4 linked regions of the Homo sapiens genome follow. The protein of the gene in region 2 interacts with the protein of the main gene of each other region in a pairwise test. Each region holds a gene or a part of one and is shown on either strand. Other genes may lie near its edges.

Evidence for each region.
Region 1: the proteins of CLSTN1 (region 2) and SLK interact in a two-hybrid assay, tested with the Homo sapiens proteins (one study listed by BioGRID and IntAct).
Region 3: the proteins of CLSTN1 (region 2) and RNF10 interact in binary tests that used the Homo sapiens proteins (3 or more experiments, as listed by UniProt).
Region 4: the proteins of CLSTN1 (region 2) and MCM3AP interact in a two-hybrid assay, tested with the Homo sapiens proteins (one study listed by BioGRID and IntAct).

What each region holds. Positions count from the first base shown.
Region 1 is NC_000010.11:104,019,140-104,026,167, reverse strand, and holds part of SLK (STE20-like serine/threonine-protein kinase), read right to left. Parts: intron 6,435-7,028; coding exon 6,246-6,434; intron 5,681-6,245; coding exon 5,555-5,680; intron 4,549-5,554; coding exon 4,435-4,548; intron 595-4,434; coding exon 448-594; 3' UTR 1-447. UniProt on the Homo sapiens protein: Mediates apoptosis and actin stress fiber dissolution.
Region 2 is NC_000001.11:9,743,951-9,750,978, forward strand, and holds part of CLSTN1 (calsyntenin-1 isoform 1 precursor), read right to left. Parts: intron 5,964-7,028; coding exon 5,814-5,963; intron 5,697-5,813; coding exon 5,511-5,696; intron 694-5,510; coding exon 445-693; intron 56-444; coding exon 1-55. UniProt on the Homo sapiens protein: Postsynaptic adhesion molecule that binds to presynaptic neurexins to mediate both excitatory and inhibitory synapse formation.
Region 3 is NC_000012.12:120,529,906-120,537,368, forward strand, and holds the start of RNF10 (E3 ubiquitin-protein ligase RNF10), read left to right. Parts: upstream 1-4,450; 5' UTR 4,451-4,791; coding exon of another isoform or gene 4,792-4,906; coding exon 4,907-5,063; intron 5,064-7,463. Other genes in the region: uncharacterized LOC128071547, read left to right, coding at 4,792-5,052. UniProt on the Homo sapiens protein: E3 ubiquitin-protein ligase that catalyzes monoubiquitination of 40S ribosomal proteins RPS2/us5 and RPS3/us3 in response to ribosome stalling.
Region 4 is NC_000021.9:46,234,605-46,240,611, forward strand, and holds the end of MCM3AP (germinal-center associated nuclear protein), read right to left. Parts: intron 2,376-6,007; coding exon 2,225-2,375; intron 1,723-2,224; exon of another isoform or gene 1,620-1,722; intron 823-1,619; coding exon 664-822; 3' UTR 529-663; downstream 1-528.

The sequences.
Region 1 (7,028 bases), on a different chromosome or scaffold from region 2:
TGAGAGCTGATCCACCAAAAGAAAATTATCCCAACTCTCTGCAGCAGAGCTTCAACTACAGAATTTAGGCATTGAGAAGTTACGTCAGGTAAGAAGAATTTATTAATACTTAGTGATGTAACAGTTTTTCTTAAATAACTTTAAACATTATTTCTCCAACAGTTTTCAGGTAGCAGTGTCTAAAGAACATAATTTTTAAGATGAATATACAAAGTCACCTTAGTCACCAAGATGCTACTTTGCCAACATGGCCTAGCGTCTGTCTTAGTTCGTTTTCCCTTCATCTTTGCTTAAAAACAAAACAAAACAAAAAAAACAAAAAAGGAAAACACCTAGAAGGTGAGGCAGGTGATTGTCTTCATGAGCTATCTGAGAGACTGTGGCAGAAGATGAGAACAGAATGACATACTGAAAGAGCCAAACCCACGCACAGAATGCTTCCCTTTGTTATGATCCGGTGGAATGCAAGCTGGGAATAGGATAAAATTTGGAAATCCGGCTCTGTGTTGATGGGTTAAGGCATTCAGACTCCCCAGTCATTTTAAAGAATACTTCCTGTTCCTGTAGTTTCCTGGCAAACTCTTCTTCCAGTGTCTTAAAAAGAAAGGGAAAAAGAAATTGCTATGTGCTGGTATTATATATAGAATTTATGCTGACAGCCAAGATAAAACTACTTGTCCAAAACACTTTCTTTGTATATAATCCTCAAGAAGACACGCCTGCTCAATTTTTTAAGATCATAAGCTTTGTACAGCCCTATGTGCAAGTCCAGCTCAGCCACATAAATGGACAATTTGGGTCCATTACTTAACTTCCCTATATTAGAGAACCATTTAATTCCTCAATTCCTCTGCTGTAAAAATAGGGATAATTTGCTATGTGAAGTATAAATGTGATAATGATGTACTTACACATACTATGCACTCTAATATATGGTACCTATTATTAACTATTATGTGTTTCTCCCACATGGCACTTACCCCTGCCTACTTGTTATTTTAGTTACGATGCGCCTGTATTTTCTTTCACACTAGACTATAATATAAGCTGTTTAAAGGTACAACTTAAATCAGAATCATTTTTATCCCCATAATACAGAGCAAAAATAAGTGCTTGAGAAATGTAAGAGGCACCATTGTGATGTGAATGTCTGTGCCCCCCAAATCCATATAAAAACCTAATCCCTAATGTGCGGATACTATGCATAGAAGGTGGGACCTCTGAGAAGGGATGAGGTCATGAGGTAGAGCCCTCCAAATGGGATGAGTGCCTTCATGAGGGGCTAAAGAGAGTTGTTATTCCGCCCTGTGAGGACACGGTGAGAAGTCGGCAGTCTGTAACCCAAATGAGGGCCCTCATCAAAGCGTGACCGTGTTGGCACCCTGGTCTCAGACTCCCCAGCCTCCAGTTTATGGCATTTTGTTACAGGTATCAATGACTTTGTGGAGAAGTGATTCAGGGATAAGTGGTGCTGTAGAGGTACAAAGCACAGGAAAAGAAGGAAGGATATAGGAGGGGTTCTCAAAAGAGGTGAAACATGAGCTTAGTGCTGAAGGAAAGATAAGAATTTGATAGGGAGCATAGGGAAGGCATGCCAGAAACAGAGCCGAAACACAGCACAAAGGCAGGAAGCCGAGGAGCTGGTATGAGGAGTGGCCATTATACCCAAGGCTGGAACCTGGACTGGGAACAAAGTGGCTAGTGGGAGAGGAAGCTAGAAAGGGTGACTGTGACTCAGGTGTGGCACTATGAAGGCTTCACAGTCAAACTGAGGCATTAATTTACATTTTACTCTGATGGAACTGAAGATTTCTCAACATCAGTATGACAGTGTCAAGAGATGTCCTTGAGGATAAATCCTCCGGTGATGGCAGGCGAGTGGGAAGAAAGGAAAGGGAACTAGAAATTAGAAGGCCCATTAGGAAATTCCTGAATAATTTAAACAAGCACCAGGATAGCAGTGAGAAAGAAAGGAGACACATTATGAAAAAGAGTCCAAATTAATTGGCGCCTGATTGAATGTAGGGTGTGACAGAAATGAAAAATAATTCTGGTTTCTAGCGTAGATGTCAGTTAAGAGAACAGGAATGCAGAAAAGAACATCTGATGGTGAGTGGCCTGCAGTGAGCGCGGAAACGTGAGATGGAGATGAAGGAACATCTGGCAGTGAGTGGGCCTGCAGTGAGTGGGGAAAGGTGAGATGGAGATGAAGGAAAAGGATGCTGAGTTTGGTTTTCTCTCTACTGAGTTTATACTCTTTAGTCAACACTGAACAGGTATGTAGTCATCTGTACAATGTGCCAGGAACTGTTCTAGAAACTGGGTACATATCAATAAATGAAGCGATCATGGCATGCTTTTAAGGAGTTTATATTCTCACTCGCAAGAGGGGACAATAAACAAATGTGTCTGGTGGTGATGAATTGTTACAAAGAAAAACAAAGAAAGGAGAGCAGATACAGAATGTTTGGGGTTCAGTATAGGTGCTACTGAGATACAGTGACCAAAAAAGGTCACAAGGCCTAGGTGAAATGAGGAGGAGCATAACACCCAGATGGAAAATGGGCGCTTACTGCCCAAACTGATAATAAAAACAAGAAACAATAATAGCAACAGCAACCATTCACTGAACCATTACTATAGCTCAGGTACTAGATAACTGCTATATAAACAACACCAAATAGGTAGTATCACTCTCATTTTACAAATTAGGAAAACTAGGCCTAGAAATGGTAAGTGAGAAAATTAATCAGTAAGTGTCAGTACTGAGATCTGAACACACACCTGTATGACTTTACAATTCATGCTCTATACAACTGCTACCATTTAAGTTTTGGAGTTGTCTATCTGCAACAGTTGAAGCCATGACTAGCAATAAAATCATCAAGGTAAAGACTGTTCTTTACTACAGGGGCAAAACTGAGAAATGTCTACATTTCAGGAGACAAAAGGGGATAAAGAACACAGAGAATGAGCAGAGCTGTGTCACAAAAGCCAGGTGAGAGGAGAATTTTAAGAAACAAGACTTTTAAGGAGAACAGTTAGATAAGGCCATAGGATTTGACTATTAGCAACTCACTTGTGACCACTGTCAACTAGTTCAACTAGGGTGTTTGAAGCAGATGCTAGGCTGCAAGTAGGTAAAGGAGATTTTACACCGTTTACAATTCTGTACCTTTTGAATTCTAAACTACATGAATGCATTACCTATTCAAAAAGTTTAACAATAAAGAAAATTTAAATTAAAAAGCCACACTATGGGCCGGGCATGGTGGCTCACGCCTATAATCCCAGCACTTCGAGAGGCCCAAGTGGGTGGATCACCTAAGGTTTGGAGTTTGAGACCAGCCTGGCCAACATGGCGAAGCCCCGTCTCTACTGAAAATACAAAAATTAGCCAGGTGTGGTGGTGGATGCCTGTAATCCCAGCTACCTGGGGGGCTGAGGCAGAGGAATTGCTTGAACCCAGGAGGCGGAGGTTGCAGTGAGCCGAGATCGCACCATTGCACTCCAGCCTGGGCGACAGAGTGAGACTCTGTCTAAACAAACAAACAAAAAGCCACACTATGAACTCATTTAGTCATTTCACTTCCTTTGGCACATAGCTAAATACATATTTCCTTGACTGATTGTATGGATGGAAGAAAGGAATGGTGGAAATGTACAGTAGGCAGGAAGCTCCCCCCAAAACAAAGGTTTAAGTTTGAGTAACGAAGGGTCAGAGATCATATAGTGATAGCAAAAACTCAGGTGAAATGGTTAGCCAGTAAGACCAGGTGAATAGGGTGTCAAGCACAAACAAGGGAAAGGGGTGAGACAGAGAAGACACCATCCCTATTTTACCAGATTTCAAGTTTACGTAGAATAACAGGGCCTTTTAATATGGCTCCAGTTGACCTGTTCAGACTCAGCTGTCATCGCTTCCTTCCTTCCTTCCTTTTCTTCCTCCCTAATGACTACACACTGGCACACACCCCCTCTCATACTCCAATGTCAGAGAACGATCTACAATTCTCTGTACGCTTCCTTTTCACTCATTCTCTTCTCCCTACTCAAATCATCCCATTCCACTCCAATCAGCCCATCCGCTTAGCAAGTTCTTACTCACCCTTCAAGACTCACTTGGCTTGCAAGGCATCTCCTCTTGAAGACCCTCCCTGACTTACCCAGGCAGATTTAAGCTCTCCTCCTCCTCTGCTTACAAAATCTGTTCCTTTCCCTTGTATCCTGTACTCACCTCCTTCAGAGCAATGACCCTACCAATTCCTAACTGCTTGTCACTAGATTCCAAAACTTCTGGGGACAAAAACTTTGTCTTTTCATCTCTATGTTTCCTGCCCCTGACACTGTACCTGACACAGTAGGTAAAGAGCCAATAGCTGGGTAGACGGACGAGTACACACATATCATTTTAATTAAAGCTTTTAAAATTACCTTTTTCCTAGGTCTCAATTTCTCTCTCCACTCCTTTAATTCTTGGCTATGTTCCTCATCTAACTCCTTCAGTTTCTGAGTCTCATGCTCAACCAACAAGTGGCATTTTTCATTCTGAAAATAAAGTTGGGATTTAAAAAAATTTCAGATCAACTAAGCAATTTTTCACAAATACAATTATCTTCCATAATAATAAATTACTCATCAAATATCATGCTATTACTGAGATTCAAGTTTTCCTCTATAAAAACCAAGGGCCATGAATTAGGAAATGAATCATAGCTTCATTTTTACAAGTTTAGAAGCTAGAACTATTACATACCATATAAAAAGAACTTAAAAAGAACTAGCTTGAGCTTTTGTTTTTCCTTTCTAAGAAGATTTGCTCATAAAACTGACACTTCAGAAGGCAGCCTGCATACATTTTACCCGTGAGTACAGAATGTGGGATCTGGTACTAAAGGGTTGGCCTAATAGATCTATTCCTGTAAAAGATCTATTGGCCCATTAGGCCAATCTATTAGGATCTGTTCTACTATAGTAAATTAAGCAAATATATAGATACCCACATTTATACACTACTCTGAAATCTTAAACATTTTAGATGGGCTGTACATTCTATGTAAGGTCCTAAATCAGCCCTCTCTCGAATAACTTTTAAATTTCCTAGGAGAAAAATTCCCATATATTTAACTTATCACTTATTTCAAAAACCTAGAAGAAAATAAACTATTTCCCTCTAAATGGAAAAGAAATTTTAAATTTAGAATCTGACAAAAAATTCAGAATATGACAACAAAACTGTCTACATCATTTTGAAACTCTCCACATCTTCTTGCAAAATATACTAAAAACCATACTCAATACTGCTTTTGAAAGACTCAATTTCGTAGGTTACAATTTAGCTTTATGTTTACATTAATCATGGTTATATATAATCTACACAAGTGCCTATGATACCAAACTGATCTTCATTTGGATCTGTACAAAAAACAGAACCTCTCAAACCCAGCATGTTCGTGTATGATGCAGTTGACTTTGGCTAGCTACTGTTCTCTCAAAAGCAGCCACTTGTGCTGCCGCATCCTATGGGCTTTGCTGTCAGGCTTCTGTATCTGACCTGCAGCTGATGCAGTTCGCGGACATTGGCTTCACACTGCAACTGAAGATCTCGCATTTGATTCTCATGTTTCTGATGCTGAGCCATTCTCTCATTTTTCTGCCTCTTTTCTTCTTGTGCAGCAAACTATAAATAAGAAAAAAAGATAAACTATAGTTCAGAAGCATGTGATTTCTATATATTCTGAAGATATAAAGGAATTTAACAAAACAAGGCACAATAAACTGAAGCTACAAGTAATAATATGCTGAGACTCAAACCTGGAGTCCACATCACAGCTTCAGAGAAGAGCAGGAACTTCTGATTAAAACCTTGATCCTCCTATCTGCTTAGTGATCTGAGTTAATTTGTGTGTGTGACCATGACTACAGAAGTATCACAGTGAGGCCATATATCTTGACTTGAAAAGTTGTCCGAGTCATCTCATTCCCAGGGCTGGTCTTAGGACCAGTCTAGCTCAGGAGCTGGTATGGGGTATAGGAGGAAGGGCTTTGCTCTCTGTGACCACCATCCTGGGGAAGACTAATTGGTATATGCCATGTATCTATAGTCCCAGCCCACAGAATTAAAGTGAACATCAACAAGCCTAAGGTGGCTCTAATTGTTTAGAAAGAAAGGAATTTTGTAGAACTTCTAATGGTCATTCAAAAATTTTAAACCTAAAAGAGAAGAGACTAACTTGCATATTTACCTGTTTAATTTTATCACGGTCCTGATCTGGTGTGGCTGTTGAGTTAATTCTCAAACTCTTCTTAAACATGGCCATTCGAGTCTTGGCTTCACTGCGCTGAATCTTGGGCAGTCTTGCTCTTTCTTGAGTCTGTCTGTTTTTCAATTCCTCAATAAGTCTTTGATTGTAACGCTGCATTTGCTCTGTTTCCTATGAAAGTTTTAAATAGAATCCAGTGACGCAGAAACAATAGTCAGTACCCACATGCATATTCAAATATGTCATTTTGTTATTGTTGTTTCCTATAATTACCCTCTCCCTTGTTGCAGTGACCAGCAAAATACTAGGCACAAAATAACTTGTAAGAAGTTAGGCTAGGTCTGGTGGCTGACACCTGTAATCCCAGCACTTTGGGAGGCTGACATAGGAGGATCACTTGAGCCTAGGAGTTTGAGACCAGCCTGTGAAACATAGTGAGACCCTGTCTCCACACACAAAATTTTTTTTTTTAATTAGCAGGGTGTGGTGGTGCATGAATGTACTTGGGAGGCTGAGGTAGGAGGATCCCTTGAACCCAGGAGTTCGAGGTTAAGTGAGCTATGACTGAGTGCCACTGCACTCCAGCCCAGGTGACAGAGCGAGACTCTGTCTCAAAAGAATAAAAAGAAAAGAAAGTTATTAGTGATGAGAGTTTTATACTGCAACTCTTAATAAGTACAAGGAGTCCATACTTTAAGATACTTGAACCACAAATAGAGCCAAAATAGCTACCTTTGAGAGCCGAGATGAAGATTACAAGGTGTA
Region 2 (7,028 bases):
AGGAAGATCAGCCGGCACCCGTGGACATAGAGGGAGTAGTGGTGCCGATTCATATCTGCAAAGGCAGTTTCTATGGGTAAATTGCCAACTAAAGATCCAAAGGAGAAATTAAAGCTGTTTCTTGAATGGATTTTGAAGACACAATTTCATCTGCATAAATGAACTCTTCGGCTAAGCCAAGGCAGGGCTTAGAAACAAATACACTTGGGCTTTCCTGAGAGGCGGAGCCTGTGATCACCGTGGACCCCACTGAGCAACAACAGCTAATACCCAAATGCCCAGGCCGTGGCTCTAGGGAACCAAGTGCCCCAGGCACACAGCATGGCACATGGCCTACGAGCACCAGGCTGGCAGGGGACCCTGGGAAAGGAGAGGGAGCCTGCCGCTGGCACCCACCCTACTGGACACTGGGGCCTGGCATCGCTTGCAGAGCTATTACCCTACCTGTTTTATCAGAACTGCAAAGAATTGTCTCCTTCTTCCTGCCGAATGGCCCATGTCTCATCCACACCGAGATGGTGAACGGCTCTTTGGGGCTGACCGACACGACGCCATCCGGGATCCTCACTGCCTGGGTGCCGTTGAACTCAAACACCTGGTCGCTGTCGTGGCCATTGTCGGTGGGCAGGCCCATGGTCCAGTTGAGGGATCCACTCGGGGATGGCAGCAGCTCGGCAGTGCCCGCGGCCGCACCTGAAGCCACAGTGCTCGGTGAAACTCATGTGAGGAGCCAGAGGTCCCGCGCACCTCAAGCCCCCAGGCACGTGCTTGTCTTACACTTAGGCAATCTGCTGGCTCCAGTTTACTTTTTTTTTTTCTTTCGAGACAGAGTCTTGCTTTGTCCCCAGGCTGGAGTACAGTGGCGCGATCTCGGTTCATTGCAACCTCCACCTCCCGGGTTCAAGCTGTTCTCCTGCCTCAGCCTCCCGAGTAGCTGGGATTACAGGCGCGCCCCATTAAAACTGGCTAATTTTTGCATTTTCAGGAGAGCCGGAGTTTCACCATGTTGGCCAGGCTGGCCTGGAACTCCTGACCTCGTGATCCGCCTGACTCGGCCTCCAAAAGTGCTGGGATTACAGGCGTGAGCCACCACGCTTGGCCCTTTCAGTTTACTTCTCTTCAAAAATCAGGGTTTTAAATTACAAAAATAAAAATAACAACCATGGATTTGTTTAAGGAAGGGAAAGGGCCAGGCGTGAACCCGGGAAGCGGAGCTTGCAGTGAGCCGAGATCGCACCCCTGCACTCCAGCCTGGGCAACAGAGCGAGACTCCGTCTCAAAAAAAAAAAAAAAAAACAAAAAGGAAGGGAAAGGAAGCATTTCTTGTAATCTGATTCAAATTATACCATTTTAGTATAAACACCCAGTCCTCCTTTGGTAAATATACACAAAAATGATGCGTTTTCTTAGAAAAATGGAGTCCTGGCAGGGCTTGGTGGCTCACACCTGTAATCCCAGCACTTTGGGAGGCCAAGGCACACAGATTGCTTGAGCCCAGGAGTTGGAGACCAGCCTGGACAACATGGCAAAACCCTGTCAATACAAAAAACACAAAAATTAGCCAGGTGTGGTGGTGCATCCCTGTAGTCCCAGCTACTTGGGAGGCTGAGATGGGAGGATCACTTGAGCCCAGGAGGTTGAGGCTGCAGTGAGCTGTGACTGTGCCACTATACTCCAGCCTGGGCGAGTGCGACCCTGTCTCAAAAATATATAAACAAATACAATAAAAGTGGAGTCCTGCTATGTATGTGCATAATACATATATATTCCTAGCAATATTCTTCTATCATGTAATTTAAACTATCTGAATAGTTGTTTTTTTTTTTTTTTTTTTTTTGAGACAGGGTCTCCTCTCTCGCCCAGGCTGCAGTGCAGTGGTGCAGCGTTGGTTTACCGCAGCCTTGACCTCCTGAGCTCAAGCAATCCTCCCACCTCAGCCTCCCAAGTAGCTGGGACCACAGGTGTGTGCCACCATGCCCGGCTAATTTTTGTGTTTTTGTAGAGACGGGGTTTCGCCATGTTGTCCAAGCTAGTCTCCAACTACTGGGCTCAAGCGATCCATCTGCCTCAGACTCCCAAAGTGCTGGGATTATAGGTGTGAGCCACCGCGCTCGGCCTGAATAGCATTTCATTGTACAGATACAGCATCACCTACTGACCAGCCTCCCAGGTGGGCACAGAGGCTGTCCCTAACCTTTTCCTATTATAAACCTCACCTGCATGCACAGCTTTATGTGTCTCCATGATTATTCCCTTAAAATAAATTCCTAGAAATGAAATTACTAAGTCAAAAAACATAAAAAATGTTTTCCAACCATTCTTATGTATTGCCATGTTCAAATTAAAAAAATTTTTTTTTGTCCACAGGAAAAGATTTTGCAAGCTCCTTCTTGACTAAGCTATTACTCGGAGCAGCAGGCCTTGGCTGGACCAGCCTGGCCTCTTGAGTAACAGAAGACCTTGGTCCAAATCTTAGCTCCTGAAGCTAGACGTGGTGGCTTGCGCCTGTAATCCCAGAACTTTGAGAGGCTGAGGCAGGCAGATCAACTGAGGTCAAGAGTTCAAACCAGCCTGGCCAATATGGTGAAACTCTGTCTCTACAAAAATACAAAAATGAGCCAGGCATGATGGCAGATGCCTGTAATCTCAGCTACTTGGGAGGCTGAGGTGGGAGAATCACTTAAACACAGGAAGTGGAGGCTGCAGTGAGCCAAGATAGCACGATTGCATTCCAGCCTGGGCGACAGTGAGACTCTGTCTCAAAAGAAAAAAAAAAACCACACACACACACTAGAACCTCAGCTCCTGAATATGTGGGCTTGGGCAAGCTACTTAACCTGCTTTAGTCTCAATTGTTTAATTCCTCTGTAACAAGGTCAATACCCACCTACTTCGTAGACTTGTTGGGAACATTAAGCTAAAACACACATAGAAGTACCTGGAGTAAGGCCAGGCGCAGTGGCTCATGCATATAATCCCAGCACTTTGGGAGGCCGAGGTGGGTGGATCACTTGAGGTCAGGAGTTGGAGACGAGCCTCGCCAACATGGTGAAATCCCATCTCTACTAAACATACAAAAAGTAGCCAGGCATCATGGCACATGCCTGTAATCCCAGCTACTTGGGAGGCCGAGGCAGGAGAATCGCTTGAACCCAGGAGGCAGACGTTGCAGTGAGTGAGATTGCGCCACTGCACTCCAGCCTGGGCGACAGAGGGAGACTGTCTCAAAAAAAAAAAAAAAAAAAAAAAAAAAGTACCTGGTGCATAGTAAGCACTCAAATTATTTCTATTCTTCCTAACTTTATTCTGCTGAAAAAAAATTCACTTAATACCATGAAATGAGAGACGGAATAAATTTTATATATTATACTTACATGCATGGTTTAAAACAGAAAATGTGCCAGACCTCCTTACTTAAATATATTTAGGTGACAATTATGAATATTTGGATTCAGAGTTGCCAAACACCCCCATATGCTCATCATTGGACTGTGGCAGCATAATGTCTAGTTTTCTACTTTGGTTTATTTACCACATGATAATTTTCTTCTTATTTATTGTTTTTTTTCTAAGACAAAGTCTAGCTTTGTCACCTAGGCTGGAGAGTAGTGGCACACTCTTGGCTCACTGCAGCCTCCTGGGTTCAAGCAATTCTCCTGCCTCAGCCTCCCAAGTAGCTGGGAGTATAGGCACCTCGCACCACGCCTGGCTAATTTTTTATTTTTAGTAGAGCGGGGGTTTCATCATGTTGATCAGGCTGGTCTTAGACCCCTGACCTCAAGTGATCTGGATAATTTTCAATTATAAACCAGTGGCCGGGCGCGGTGGCTCATGCCTGCAATCAGCACTTTGGGAGGCCGAGGTGGGCGGATCACGAGGTCAGGAGATCGAGACCATCCTGGCTAACACGGTGAAACCCCGTTTCTACTAAAAATACAAAAAAATTAGCCGGGCATGGTGGCAGGTGCCTGTAGTCCCAGCTACTCGGGAGGCTGAGGCGGGAGAATGGTGTGAACCCAGGAGGCGGAGCTTGCAGTGAGCCGAGATGGCGCCACTGCACTCCAGCCTGGGTGACAGAGTGAGACTCTGTCTAAAAAAAAAAAAAAGAAAACCAGTAACCTAAATCTCATGGTTGTTATCAGGCTAGTGAAAAGACTCATCAGTTTAAGAAAATGCTCCCTGAAAAGCTGTTTCACAAAAGCTTTTTGAAACACAAAAGACCCTTCCAATTTATGAAGACGCTGCTTCATTTAGTGGGATTTTATCACCAGTCAACTAAATGTTCTTCCCTCAACATCTTCCATGACAGCCATCCATACCTCACCTCTTCTTCATTTAGATAAACCAGAAAAATATCCGCAGCTGACAGTAAAGAGAGACCTAGCCTTCTGGTGGGTTTCCCAGTAATTCTGTCTCTCAATTTCTCCACACAATATTGTGATATAGAAAATCTATTGAGATTCTAAGTTAGATGTGGCTATCTTTAGTTCTGATTTTCTACTTCATGTTTGTCAAAAGCTATTGTATTACCTATATTTTTCCTTCAGTTCTTTTTGAGACAGGTTCTCACTCTGTCATCCAGGCTGGAATGCAGCGGCGTGATCTTGGCTCACTGCAACGTCCACCTCCTGGGCTCAAGCGATCCTCCTCCCTCAGCCCCCCAAGTAGTTGGGACTACAGGCGTGCACCGCCATGCCCGGCTAGTTTTTGTTTTTTTTGTAGAGACAGGGTTTTCTCCATGTTGGTCAGGCTGGTCTCGAACTCCTGACCTCAGGTGATCTGCCCACCTCGGCCTCCCAAAGTGGTAAGATTATAGGCATGAGCCCCCATGCCCTGGCCTTTGTCTTCAATTCGTAAGTAAACATCTCATTTCATGTAAAACTCACTCCATGTACTCCTATAGAAGCCCTTTTTGGATGATTCTCAGAGTATGCTGGAGAAATACTTCCTTCAAATCAGTGGTTCTTTTTTTAAAACAGGGTCTCACTCTATTGCCCAGGGTGGAGTGCAATGGTGCCATCACGGCTCACTGCAGCCTCAACCTCCCGGGCTCAGGTGATCCTCCCGCTCAGCCTCCCAAGTAACTGGAACTACAGGTCCATGCCACCATCCCCAGTTAATTTTTCAATTTTTTGTAGAGATGGGGTATCGCTGTGTTGCCCAGGCTGGTCTCAAACTCCTGGGCTCAAGTGATCTTCCCACCTCGGCCTCCTAAAGTGCTGGAATTACAGGTATAAGCCACCACATCTGGCCACCAGTGGTTCTTAAAATGCACATATACACAACATGTTGAATAGACGTTTAGGAGTTGATGTCCACCCCCTGCCCCACCCCCGAAGCCCATCCAGTATGAAAACTAGCCAGCAAGGCAGCAAAGTTCACTTCAGAAATGCAGATTCTCTGTCACAGTTTATAATTATGAACACAACACACACAAGTATTTCCAGTTGTAAAGGTCCCTCCCACCTTCACCAAAGCCAGCCGGATGCAAGAACGCCTGGTCTCCTTACCACAGAGCCGGTGGAGGGACTTCTCTGAGTAGGTGTCTCGGTCGCAGCCTTTCCCTATGTGGCTGGTTTCTAGCTCCACTGTGGCCTGTACTGAGGCGACTGGCTCGTCACATGTCTCCAGGTGGATATTTGGAAAGACGGCCAACGCGCCGGTGCCCGGCTCATACTCAATCCTGTTGTTCCATCCTGTGTTGGTCCACAAGTCAGCAGGGGAAGAGAGAAGGAAAACACACACTCTAGGTTGCTGCCGCATACATCAGTTTTAAGAGCAGATGTGAGCGCAGGGGAGAGAATGAAGCTCACCTTGCCACCCAGGGGTGCAGGTGGGCTTAATGCTGATCTTCACCAAAACATCTTCTGTGGCTCTTTTCTTCCCACAGTCATAGGCAGTGACGGTCAGCTTATATTGATGTTCTTTCCCGTAGTTTAATTTCTCTGTGTTTTTTATATAACCTTACAGAGGGCAAAAACAACAGTGAGAGCCAAAACCCATGCTGGTTTTACTTTTGTTGTCCTAGGCGGAAAGACAAAATGCATAGGCTTTAAGCCCTGTAAATACTCAGCCAGAAATAAACATATGCTTGGGATGCTTAACCCTCAACCTGTCCTCCCTGAGCCCTAACACGCACTAAATCCATCCTGAAGAGTTTCAACAGAAGAGACGGAGCTACACAGCTCAGTCTCCACTTACTCTCACAGTGTTACATTGGGCTTTACATTAAGATTTAACTGTTTACATACATTCAGAGGATTAAAAAATAATAATAATTCAAGTACCTCAAATATTAAATATAAGATCGCTGATCAAACATTTACTATATTAAAAGAAAGAGAGATTTCCTACCCCCACCTGCTTAGAACAGAAGCCTGCTTTTTGAACGTGGTGAGTATAGATCTCTGGAAAGTGTTTGCAATGTCCATAATTCCATCAAAGATTCTAGACCGTGCATTGATTAACAATGGAAACACTGTATTATCTTTTTTTTTCTTTTTGGAACAGGGTCTCGTTCTCTTGCCCAGGCTGGAGTGCAGTGGCCTGATCTCGGCTCACTGCAACCTCTGCCTCCTGGGTTCAAGCGATTCTCCCACTTCAGCCTCCCAAATAGCTGGGACTACAGGTGTGTGCCTGCAGTCCCAGCTACTAGCGAGGCTGTGGCGGGAGGATCCCGTGAGCCCAGGAGTTCGAGGTTACAGTGAGCAGTGACTGCACCACTACATTCCAGCCTGGGCGACAGAGCAAGACCTTCCCTCAAACAAAAAAAAAAAAAAAAAAGATGTCACAGGAGATTCTAACTTAATGGAGAACATGGCCAGGCGCGGTGGCTCACACATGTAATCCCAGCACTTTGGGAGGCCAAGGTGGGCGGATCACCTGAGGTCAGGAGTTCAAGACCAGTCTGGCCAACATGGTGAAACCCTATCTCTACTAAAAATACAAACAACAACAACAAAAAATTAGCTGGGCGTGGTGGTGGGCACCTGTAATCCCAGCTACTCGAGAGGCTAAGGTAGGAGAAT
Region 3 (7,463 bases), on a different chromosome or scaffold from region 2:
GTCTTTTTTTAATGGCAAGGGTAATGCAGACCGTCTTGTGCAAAATAAAGAACGGACGTTGTTGAGTTTTGCTTGGATTACTGTATGTTTCTGCTTTCATTCCATTTTAAATGTATGTTTCCTGTAAATATTTCACGAGGAGAAAGCGCCAATAGAAGAAACTGTTTTGAAATGAAAATTCTCTTCCTGGTTTAATATAGCCTGACAGATGGACACCTAACCGCTTTCGTTTGGGAAGTACTGCGCTGGGATTTCTGTTTCTTTCTCTTTTATTTTAAGAATGATAGAAGGTCCTCGTTGGTATAGTGATGAGAAAAAAAAAAGGAAGGATACAAGGGCGAAATGATTCATCCATGTATTCATAATTCTCATGTCTTTGTTAAAAGAAATTAAGTGGCTGGGTGCGGTGGCTCACGCCTGTAATCCCAACACTTTGGGAGCCCGAGGTGGGCGGATTGCATGAGGTCAGGAGTTCGAGACCAGCATGGCTAACATGGTGAAACCCCGTCTCTACTAAAATACAAAAATCAGCCAGGCATGGTGGTGCACACCTGTAGTCCCAGCTATTCAGGAGGTTGAAGCAGGAGAATCCCTTCAACCCAGGAGTCACTGGTTGCAGTGAGCTGAGATTGCACCACTGCACTCAAGCCTGGGTGACAGAGCCAGACTCCATCTCAAAAATAAATAAATAAATAAATAAATAAATAAATAAAGTCTCATCAAAGAATCTTATATCTTCCATATCTAGTTATATAAAAGAATGGATCTCAGGATTTAGGGCTGTTCCTTCTGCACATCAGATTAAGTATCCAGACCAACAGTATTTCACTGTTCTCTTATTTCATATGATATGTGGAGGAAAACCTGTAAAAAGTGAAGTAGGACAAGGACTGTTGGAAGGTATTTTTTTTTTGAGGTAGCGTCTTGCTCTGTTGCCCAGACTGGAGTGCAGTGGCATGACTTCGGCTCACTGCAACCTCTGTCTTCTGGGTTCAAGTGATCCTCCTGCCTCAGCTTCCCTAGTAGCTGGGATTACAGGCATGCGCCACCATGCCAGGCTAATTTTTGTATTTTTAGTAGAGATGGGGTTTCGCTATATTGGCCAGGCTGGTCTTGAACTCCTGACTTCAGGTAATCCACCTGCCTCAGCCTCCCAAAGTGCTGAGCCACCACTCCCGGCGCTAATTTTTGTATTTTTAGTAGAGATGGGGTTTCACCATTTTGGCTAGGCTGGTCTTATTTACTTATTTATTGATTCATTCTTTATTTTGAAATAGGATCTCACTTTGTCACCCAGGGTGGAGTGCAGTGGCACAATCATAGCTCACTTCTCACCCTCCCAGGCTCAAGCCATCCTCCCACCTCAACCTCCTGAGTAGCTGGGACTACAGGTGTGCACCACCACACTGGGCTGATTTTTGCATTTTTTGTTGAGACAGGGTTTTGCCATGTTGCCCTGAATGGTCTTGAACTCCTGGGCTTGGGCAATCTGCCTACCTCAATCTCCCAAAGTGCTGGGATTATAGGCGTGAGCAACCGCACCTGGCCCTGGTCATTTCCTTAATAGCATGTCTATGTGATCTTTTGAATCTCAAACTACTATGGTTGGAAGGGAATCATTTGTAATTTTCCAAAGTACAAATAGGTGTGGTATGATTCCCAAAGTCTTAGCGTCTATATCTGTAAACCATATGTTTTTGTTTTTTGTTTTTTAATTTTTAGTAGAGAATTGGTTTCACTATGTTCAGGCTGGTCTCAAACTCCTAACATCAAGTGATCTTCCTGCCTCAGCCTCCCAGAATGTTGGGATTGAGCTACCTTGCCTGGCCACATACATGATTTTCCTTTTTTTTTCTTTTTTTTTTTTTTTGAGACAGAGTCTCGCTCTGTCACCCAGGCTGGAGTGCAGTGGCCCAATCTCAGCTCACTGCAACCTCCGCCTCCCAGGTTCAAGCGATTGTCCTCCCTCAACCTCCCAAGTAGCTGGGACTACAGGTGTGCGCCACCACGCCCGGCTAATTGTTGTATTTTTAGGAGAGACGGGGTTTCACTGTATTGGTCAGGCTGGTCTCGAAATCCTGACCTCGTGATCTGCCCGCCTCGAACTCCCAAAAAGTGCTGGGATTACAGGCCTCCCAAAAAGTGCTGGGATTACAGGCCTCCCAAAAAGTGCTGGGATTACATTGCACCTGACCCACATACATTATTTTCTTTCTTCTTTTTTTTTTTGAGATGGAGTCTCGCTCTGTTGCCCAGGCTGGAATACAGTGGTGCAGTCTTGGCTCACTGCAACCTGTGCCTTCTGGGTTCAAGTGATTCTCCTGCCTCAGCCTCCTCAGTAGCTGAGATTACAGGTGCGCACCACCACGCCTGGCTAATTTTTTTGTATTTTTAGTAGAGACGGGGTTTCACTATGTTGGTCAGGCTGGTCTCGATCTCCTGACCTGTTGATCCACCCGGCTTGGCCTCCCAAAGTGCTGGGGTTACAGGTGTGAGCCACCGTGCCCGGCCCCATATGCATGATTTTCTAAATCTCAGTCTGTATCTGTAAAATGAGGAACTGCTTGTCTCATAGGTAAGAACATCACTTGTTAGCTATGTGATAATAGGCAAATTATCTGGACTTTTGGAGTCCATTTACTCATCTTTAAATTTTATTTATTTAGGGACAGAGTCTTGTTGTGTTACCCAGGCTGGATTCATACTCTTGGGCTCAAGTGATCATCCCTCCTCAGCCTCCTGAGTAGCTGGGACTACAGGCACACTTAGTCTAAAATTTAGTTATTGAGAAGATTAAATGTGATAATGTTAACAGCTGTTAAATACAATTTATAGGAGCCCATTGTTTTGCACTGAGCTTCAGCACAGTAGACCAAACCAAAACAGAGTTACTCAAGGTGAATTTCTACCCAACCACGCCTAAACGAAATTGTTTATCTGACCTTCTGAGAAATCATCAAATCCCCAAACTGGTCAGTTTTACCCCACATAAGGAAGTCCATTCTGCTTAAACCTTTACAAGAAAAGTAATTTTGAAATGACTAATCTGCTTTTTGTTCTCTGTTTCTACTTTTTAAAAAAAAGTTTAGACAGGGTCTCCCTCTCTGTCACTCATACTGGAGTGCACTGGCACGATCGTATCTCACTGCAACCTCCAACTGCTGGGCTCAGGTGATCCTCCCACCTCAGTTTCCTGAGTAGCTAGAACTACAGGTGTGCAGCCACAGCCACTATGCTTGGCTAATTTTTTTTTCTTTCTCTCTTTTAAATTAAAGTTAGTTTTATTCAAACTATTTTATTCAGAGCCCAGCTAATTTTTGTATTTTTAATAGGGTCGGGATTTTGCTATGTTGGCCAGGCTGGTCTTGAACTCCTGGCCTCAAGTGATCTGCCCCCTCCTCAGACTCCCAAAGGGCTGGAATTACAGGTGTGAGCCACCACGCCCGGCTGCCCAACTAATTTTTTAAAAAATATTTTTATTCTTTAGAGACAGGGGTCTCGCTATATTCCCCAGGCTGGTCTGGAACTCCTGGCCTCCAAGGATCCTTCCACCTCTGCCTCCCAAAGTGTTGGGATTACACGCATGAAACACTGCTTATGGCCTGTTTCCGCCTCTGTCTCCTGGGTAATGGGGACCACAGGTGCGCACCGCCACGCCAGGCTAAAGAAATAAAGTGATGTACTGTATGAAGAAGTGCCGTAAAGTGATATTAAATGTAAGGTATTGTCATTATTAACGTTATTATTATTATTCCTAATATGAGATAGACTAAAGGCCATAAATCAATTGGTATTAACGCTAGAATAAGAACCATAAATTGGCCGGGCGCGGTGGCTCACGTCTGTAATCCCAGCACTTTGGGAGGCCGAGGTGGGCAGATCACGAGGTCAGGAGATCAAGACCATCCTGGCTAACACGGTGAAACCGTGTCTCTACTAAAAATACAGAAAATTAGCCGGGCGTGGTGGCGGGCGCCTGTGGTCCCAGCTACTCGGGAGGCTGAGGCAGGAGAATGGCGTGAACCCGGGAGGCGGAGCTTGCAGTCAGCCCAGATCGCGCCACTGCACTCTAGCCTGGGCGACAGAGCGACTCCGCCTCAAAAAAAAAAAAAAAGAACCATAAATCAAACGAGTCTATAAAGGAGTTCCACAGGTATTCCAATGTTTGGCTACATTATTATCAGTGTATATTATTATTGTTACTGTATTTTTAGTGTACTAAGTGAAAAACCTGGACTTGGAGCAACTGCAAGTCCCATTATTTTGAATGCCCTCACAGTGGGGTTGGGGCGGAGGTGGGGGAGGAAATAAAAAAAACAAAACCAAAACAAACAAACAAACAAAAACCAAAAAACAAACCACGAGACCCGGATGTAGGCAAAAACTACATTTCCCAGAATACCTCACCCCCTCTCCACTATATATACAGTCCATCCGGGTTCTTTGAGATGCTGTTTGGCGACTCGTCGCCATTCCCGGAGCAGGTCGGCCTCGGCCCAGGGGCGAGTATCCGTTGCTGTGTCGGAGACACTAGTCCCCGACACCGAGACAGCCAGCCCTCTCCCCTGCCTCGCGGCGGGAGAGCGTGTCCGGCCGGCCGGCCGGCGGGGCTCGCGCAACCTCCCTCGCCTCCCCTTCCCCCGCAGCCTCCGCCCCGCCAGGCCCGGCCCGGACTCCCGAGCCCCGGCCTCCTCGTCCTCGGTCGCCGCTGCCGCCGGGCTTAACAGCCCCGTCCGCCGCTTCTCTTCCTAGTTTGAGAAGCCAAGGAAGGAAACAGGGAAAAATGTCGCCATGAAGGCCGAGAACCGCTGCCGCCGCCGACCCCCGCCGGCCCTGAACGCCATGAGCCTGGGTCCCCGCCGCGCCCGCTCCGCTCCGACTGCCGTCGCCGCCGAGGCCCCCGTTGATGCCGCTGAGCTCCCCCAACGCCGCCGCCACCGCCTCCGACATGGACAAGAACAGCGGCTCCAACAGCTCCTCCGCCTCTTCGGGCAGCAGCAAAGGGCAACAGCCGCCCCGCTCCGCCTCGGCGGGGCCAGCCGGCGAGTCTAAACCCAAGAGCGGTAAGGACGGGCCTGCGGCAGTGGGCGGGGGCGACTGCCCCTGCTGCTGGGGAGAGTCGTTGCTCTCATCGGCTGGGTTACTCGGGGACAGGCTCCACTTTCTTTTATAGCTCCTACCTGCCCTTTTCCATGGCTCTCATTTGCAGTTACATTAATGAGCGCTGTGCTGCGTGGTTTACGTGGATCATTTACATTAATACTCAAAACTGCTCGATTAAGCAGGTGCTGTTCTTATCGCCATTTTGCATATGATGAGAAAGGGTAAGGTCACCCAGCTAGTATTTGGCTCACAGCAGGCCTTAAGACTTGGTTTGTGTGACTCATCAGTCCACGCTCCTAAAACCACTAAGTTGTTCTACCCTTTAATGTTGAATTAACATTGGATAGTGTTCAAGTTTAGATGGGTGGGTGAGGGCCCAAGGACCTTTCAAACTCAGATCTCTTATTTAATAACCTGGTCCCAGATCCATTCCTCTGTCGAAGAGGAAGTCATCCTTCAGTGGCTATTCATTGTGGGGTTAAGAGCGCAGACTATGAATTCAGTCTTTTTGGGTCCCAGTTTGCCAGACCTTGAGTGAGTGCCCCGAGTTTACTTACTTGTAAAGGTAGGTGGAGGTAATATAATTAAATAAACTTAAAAAACTAATTAAAAACAAAACAAATGAACTAAGGTCTTAGGATATCTGGCGTCTATTTTGCGCCAAATACACATAATGTCTATTGTTGTGTGTTGGACTATAGGATTGTCCTTTAACAGGGAAGGTTTTATTTCTGTAATCAAGTCTGTCAATATTATGACCATGTTGATAATAGCTACCTTTAATTGAGGGCTTACCATGTGCCAAGTACTAGGTGAAGTTTTTACCTCTGTTTTCACTGTGCCAGTCACTGACTTGTCTACCAGGGTGAAATTGTTCATATTTAAAGAAGGAATAAACTGAGCAGGTAGGATGTTAGGAGTTGGCAGAGGCTAGAGTCCCGGTGTTCTTCATTTTATTTCGAAGTTTGTACTAATCTCTGCTCTCTTTTGTATTTCAGTCACATTAGCAGTAATAGGAAGGTGTTTTCAGCGACAGTGGGGATGTTGTGGCAGAGAGGGAAATATTTGAAGTCCCTAAATGTGGAGGTCCAGTTTAAAACTTGTCAAGATTAAAAAAACTGTTTAGAGTGAGACCGGGCGCGGTGGCTCATGCCTGTAATCCGAACACTTTGGGAGGCTGAGGTGGGAGGATAGCTTGAGCCCAGGAGTTTCACACCAGCTTGGGCAAGATAGTAAGACCCTCGTCTCCATAAGAAAAAAAAAAAATTAGCCGAGTGTGGTGGCACACACCTGTAACCCTACCTACTTGGAAGGGTAAGGTGGGAGGATCGCTTAAGCTCAAGGAAGTTGAGGCTGCGGTGAGCTATATCACGATACTGCATACCATCCAGCCTGGGTAACAGAGACCCCCATCTCTAAACAGTAAAAAGAAAACTAAGGCTGACTTAAAACAAACAAAAAAAACAGAAAATTGTAAGGTCTGCTAACTCGCTCAGAGTTCACCTGCTGGATATGGCAAACTTGTTTACCTGGTGTGAGACCATTGGAGTATGGGTTCTCGGGCCGTGTCAGGAAATGGCATGTATGCAGACTGATTTTGCAGTTCTGCACATGCGTAGCTTTGCCATAGATCCCTCAAAAGATAGAAGGTAACCAGTCCTTTTGGTCAGTGTTGGAACTGGTTTAGAGTGGTCTGTTCAAAGCAATTGATAAGTAAGTTTATTTTTGTACTCTATTCCCAGATGTATGTTAAGGATTTGGTTCTCCAACTGTGAATTCTCAACTAATTTTTCTGGGGCTCCTCTTTAAGCCACTAACATACATTCATTAGTCAGTTGCAATAAATGCCTTAAGTTTATTTCTTAGCAGTAGGTGAAAGCTTGTGACAACTTAAAATAAAACAAACAAACAGGTATTTAAGGAATTTTACTGCTATGTCCTTCACTTTGAATATGTTGGTTAGTGGAATTAACTCTGATTACCCAACAAGATGATACAGAATTCTATAGTAGTTTGACCAAAGCAAGTATTTGTCATTGTTAACATTTCAAATGGGCTGGGTGGCTATAATCCCAGCACTTTGGGAGGCTGAGGCAGGCCGATTACTTGAGCCCAGGAGTTCGAGACCCTGTCCTACAAAAAAATAAATGAGCCGGGCGTGGTGGCACGCACCTGTAGTCCCAGCTGTGAAGAGGCTGAGGCAGGGGAGGAGGAAGAGCACTTAAACCCAGAAGTTCGAGGTTGCAGTGAGCCACGATCACTCCACTGCACTCTAGCCTGGGTGGCAGAGTGAGACCCCGTCTCAAAACAAGAAAACTTCTGTAAAAACTCATGTAGGCCGGGTGCGGTGGCTCACGCCT
Region 4 (6,007 bases), on a different chromosome or scaffold from region 2:
CAGCTCTCAGAAGAAGGTGACAAGAATCTCTGACCTCACCCTGCTGGCCTGTTCCCCTCACCTGGCCACACAACCAAGCTGGTACCTCCACGCTTTCATCATGTCCTCTCAAGTACACTGTCTCCAGCTACACCCCTGCACTCCTCTCCGGGAATTCTGTTTCTCCTCTACCCAACCAGACCCTGTTCCATCCTCTGTTTTTTCCTTGCTACCAATTCAGGCCCACGCCTCATGCACATTCTCTGAGAATTATGTACATAAGTACCTGACTCTCCTGGATGTAAGCTGGGTGGGCTTAGCAGGCAGAGGCCCTGTGTCTTACTTTATCTCTGCATCACTGATGTCTGGCACATCAAGGACTGCAAGTTTGCTGAGAGAATGAATCGCCTTTTATACATGGAAATGTAAGCTCTAAACTGCCTCAGAGCATATGCTGGTGGGTGACAATCTGAGGAGGTCATGAATATAGGAGAATATTGAAGAGGTCACACAGGGGAAACAACTTTTCATTATGAAAAACTGGGAGACTGACATTTAAATGGTTTATCTGCATGATTAAATTAATCACATTTCCAACAGTGCATCAAGCATCTGAGAATAACATTATTTTGAGTAAAAACAGAAACTCTTCGGGAGAGACCCCCTCCCCACAGGTCAGGCTGCTCAAATGTCCACCATGTCTAGCAGCGCAGAGAGATGGAGCTCAGAGGCAACTTCCTCTTCCCTTGAACTCCGGATCAGCCTTTCCAGGTGCTTTAGTCGTTCGCCTAGACACGTTCCTGTCGCCTCTGACAGCTGCAGTTGCTCCCTCATCATGTCACTCTATTTGAATAAAAAAGAAACTGAACAGTTTTGGGATGTCAATAAACCACGACCTATCTCTGGGAAGGTACTAGATCTGGATCATGTTAGAAACCTCATCTGAGTAGTCATTTATTTTTACAGAGGGAAAAAAATTATCCTTTGTATATCCTTCCAGCCTCATTTAGCTCGTACATTCAGCTGGTATCTGTATATAGACTGTTTGCCTTTGTATTCTATCATGAACAATTTCCAGTGTCAGTCATTTTTCACCCAGGCTGGAACGCAGTGGTATGATCGGAGCTTACTGCAGCCTCAAACTCCTGGGCTCAAGTGATCCTACCAGCTCAGCCTCCTGAGTAGCTGGGACAACAGGCATGTAGCACCATGCCTGGCTAATTATGTACTGTAGAGATGAGATCTCTTTATGTTGCCCAGGCTGGACTCAAGCTCCTGGACTTAAGCGATCCTCCCTCATCAGCCTCCCAAAGTGCTGGGATTACAGGCATGAGCCACCACGCCCAGCCAGTCATTTTTAGAAAATATCATCGTCAAGGGCTGTGAATTATTCTATCACATGAATGTGTTATAATTGTTTAATCAGACTCCCATCTTCGGATATTTATTCTGTTTCGACTTTCATACAATAATGCTACAGTAAACATTTTTATACATTAATTTTTGGGGAATATCTGGTAGGTCAGAATTCTTTAGGTTAGAATTGGTAATTCAAAGGGTATGAATATTTTTAAAGTATTTGCCAAACTGATGAATGGAAACAGTACATCATTTTAATTTGCTTTTCTCCTCTATTGAAGGACTTCCTAAAGCCAGTCCAGGAGCACAGTTTTTACCTGTTCAGTGGCACATATCTGTGATTGAAACTCTGTTTTTGCATCTTTAACCACTGAAGGAAGAATGGTAAGGTAAAAAGACCTTAGGCTTTGGAGCCAGTTGGATCTGGCTTTGAAAAGCAACCTGACCACTCACTACTTGAACACTCTTGGGTGAGGCTCTTGACTTCTGGGAGCTTACCTTCCTCATTCATTAGTTTTCCTCAGGAAAAATTAATCCCAGAAGAGAGGTCTGGGTAATGCCAAAGCTCAGACAATATGTGCTCCAACAGAAGCTGCTGTCATCACCTTAATGCCCTTAATTACACATCAGCACACAGTTACAGGTCTTATTCAGTTCTTAAGAATATTTCAATTCTATTCTTCATTTATTTCGTAGGCAGAAACTCAAAATCAGTTGGGTCTCTTTAACAATGATATGGATAAAGTTTAAGAAAAGGTCTAATTTGAGCTAATAATTTGTCGGTCATCAAAACATCATAGGATAAATCGTGATATTACTTTTTTCCCCAGCCATTCTCTCAATCTTTAATTCTTATGTAAATGCCAAATGTATACGTTCTTCTCACCTGTGGGCTAGTAGTTACAGATGTTTTCATCACAGGTTCAATAGTGTGAGAAAGAGACACTAGAGTCTGAGGAAGATAGAGGGGAAGGGAAGTTAAATCCGTAAATGCTCCTGAGTCTTCAGACAACCATTGCTGAAGCTGATCTTCAAACCTGAAACAATATGTAATAAATTCAAAAATATTTGAGCATTAGGAAGTTAACTATTGTTCATTAATCTTCTATATATACTTAAAAACTTTTTAAGCCTTTGCTTTTTTAAAATTTTATATAATTTTTTTTTTTTTTTTTTTGAGACAGAGTCTCACTCTGTTGCCCAGGCTGGAGTGCAGTGGCATAATCTCGGGTCAGTGCAACCTCTGCCTCCCAGGTTCAAGTGATTCTCCTGCGTCAGCCTCCTGAGTAGCTGGGATTATAGGCAAGTGCCACTGTGCCCAGCTAATTTTTTGTACTTTTAGTAGAGATGGGGTTTCACCATATTGCCCAAGCTGGTCTTGAACTCCTGACCTCAGGTGATCCACCCACCTCGGCCTCCCAAAGTGCTGGGATTACAGGAGTGAGCCACTGTGCTTGGCCAATTTTATTATTATTTTTTTTTGACAAGGTCTCGCTCTGTTGGCCAGGCCGGAGTGCAGTGTTACAATCTTGGCTCACTGCAACCTTGACCTCCCAAGCTCAAATGATCTCACCTCAGCCTCCCAAATACCTGGGACTAGAGGCGCATGCCACCCAGCTAATTTTTGTATTTTTTTGTAGAAACGGGATTTTGCTGTATTGTCAGGCTAGTCTACAACTCCTGAACTCAAGTGATGTGCACACCTCAGCCTCCCAAAGTGCTGGGATTATAGGCATGAGTCACCACACCCAGCCTTAAGCCTTTGCTTTTTACTAAGAATATAACTAAGTTATGACATCAACTGAGAAGCAGAAATGTACTTATTAAAAATTTAACAACTTCCTATGATAAAGCTTAATTTAAAAAAAAAAACTAGGCTGGGCTCGGTGGCTCATGCCTGTAATCCCAACACTTTGGGAGGCCGAGGCGGGCAGATCACCTGAGGTCAGGAGTTCAAGATCAGCCTGATCAACATGGTGAAACCCCGTCTCTACTAAAAATACAAAAATTAGCCAGGCATGGTGACACGTGCCTGTAATCCCAGCTACTTGGGAGGCTGAGGCAGGAGAACTGCCTGAACCCGGGAGGCGGAGGTTGCAGTGAGCCAGATCACGCCATTGCACTCCAGCCAGGGCAACAAGAGCAAAACTCCATCTCAAAAAAAAAAAAAAAAAAATTAGAGAAACCACTTCCCTTTAATTTATAAATCCAATTCCAATTTATATTTAATGAAAAAGGTGGTATTAATCCAAAAACAACTGCTTCGATGTGTTACTTAACATTACTTGTAATTGTCTTGTTTGGCTTATCTTATTTAATTTACTTTGGTTTTATGCATCTATAATTAATTCTTCTGACATTTTCCAAATGAGTGGATTGCTGCTTATAGCTTAAAATTAACTCAAAATAATATCCCACTGCCACCTAACATACTCTAGAGCTGTCTACTTCCATATACCGGTCTTTTCAAGAAAAACAATCTTGGCCAGGTGCAGTGGCTCATGCCTGTAATCCCAGCACTTTGGGAGGCCAAGGCAGGTGGATCACCTGAGGTCAGGAGTTCAAGACCAGCCTGGCCAACATGGTGAAACTGCGTCTCTACTAAAAATACAAAAATCAGCCAGGCATGGTGATGGGTACCTGTAGTCCCAGCTACTTGGGAGGCTGGGGCAGGAGAACTGCTTGAACCTGGGAGGTGGAGGTTGCAGTGAGTCGAGATTGTGCCACTGCACTCTAGCCTGGGCAACAGAGCGAGACTCTATCTAATAAAAAGGAAAAAAAAATCTCATCCCAAACCACTTAAATTATAGAGACTGATTTTAGTAATCGGACACATTCATTCACCCTTCCAAAACATATTCATTAAGCCTCCTCCAGATGCTAGGCATCATTCTAGGTACAAGGAATATTGCACTGAAACAAAACAGAGGCCCTGCCCTAAGCAATTTATACTTTAGTGAGGAGAGACAGACAAGGAACACATAACAAGAGAAACATGGTTTGAAGATGAGAAAGACAAAGCAGAGCCATGGAAACAAGAAGGTCGGAGATGGGCAAGCAGGGCCTAACAGAAGCAGACATTTGAGTAGAGATCTGAAGTGAGTACAAGATCAGCCATGGGGATGCTGGGGAGAATGGAGGGGCTGGACAGTCCTAGGCAAAAGGAACAGCAAACTCAGAGGCCCAACTGTGAACTGCCTACCATGCTCAAGGAAGGAGCGGAGGTCAGAGAGGAAATGGGGGGCAGATCACTCAGGGCCCTGGCCACCCCTGCAAAGTTTGCCTTTGATTGCAGGTGAAAGAGGGAAACCACTGAGAGGCTGTAAGCAAGCAAGTGACACGACCTCCATCTTAACTCACTTGAAAGGCACCCACCAGGTCTACCAAGACTAAACTGCAGCCTACTGTAATAATCCAGAAGGAAGATGATAGTGGCTTGAGCCACGTGGTGGCCATGGAAGTCATAACAAGTGGTCCAATTCTGAATGTATTTTCAATAGAGCCAATAGGATATGTGAATGGGCTGATGTGAGGGGATGATTCCAAGGCACCTGATCTAGGCAGCTGGAAGGATGGAGCCGCCATCAACAGAGATGACCACCAAAGGAAGGGGTTGGTTGGAAGAAAGCCGGGAACTGGATTTGGGATATGTTAACTTTGCAGTGGCTACCAGACATCCAATAGGTGTCTAATGAAGATTTCAAGGAAGCAGTAGCATGTTCAAGTGTGGAGTTCAGAGGTTTGAGATACAAATTTGGAGCTGTCAGAATAGTGATGTTACTTAAAAATCCATGAAACTGGATGAAATTTCTGAGGAGTAGGTACAGACGATGCAGAGGAGAGGTTGAGAGAATGAATCCAGGGGGCAGCTGGGGGATGAGGAGGAACCAGCAGGGCAGGAGGGGGACCACGGACATCCTAGGAGCAAGGAGGGGAGGATCAAGTATGGGATGCTACCAAGGACTGGGATTCACGGTCATGTTCAACCCTGGGCCTTCATCCCCATGGGAAAGAAGGCTGAAGAAGTGAGTATCACAAGCGTTTTTGAGGAGTTTTACCATTAAGAGGGCAGAAACATGAAGTGGTGGCTAAAGAGGGAAGTGGGACCAAGACAGGGAGGCATGTTTCATGTCTGTGTGCTGCTGATGGGCACCACCTAATATGGGGAGGGGTGGTAGCACGAGAGAGATACTCATTGAATGAATGTCCTTGGGTAGGTGGGAGATGAGATCCCAGCCCAGGGAAGGGCTGACTGACTACGAGCTGCATGGTTCGTTTCCAGCAACAAGAGGCGTCAGGAAGGGGATATAGGGAGGATGCTGGATGTGGCTGGGAGGGCAGGGAAGGCAGAGGACAACCTGTGGAAGGTCCCTTATTCCTGATTCTACTCAGTAAAATGGTAAACATGGCCATCAAATGAAAGCAAAGGAAAGGTATGCATGGGAGGGAGGGAAGTGGGCAATGTAGAGGAGGGGCAGCCCCAGCTCCTGTCCATTCACAGCATGGGATGATCCACCAATGCCTCAGGCTCCCAAGGGCAGGGTGCCTGTGGCCAGCCATAGTGTTCAGCACTCACCATCTTCTGAGCAGACTTAACCACATGAATTTCCCAGAAAAACTTAACACTGACTTTCAATAATAAATAATAAATGAAATTCACTTCAATATA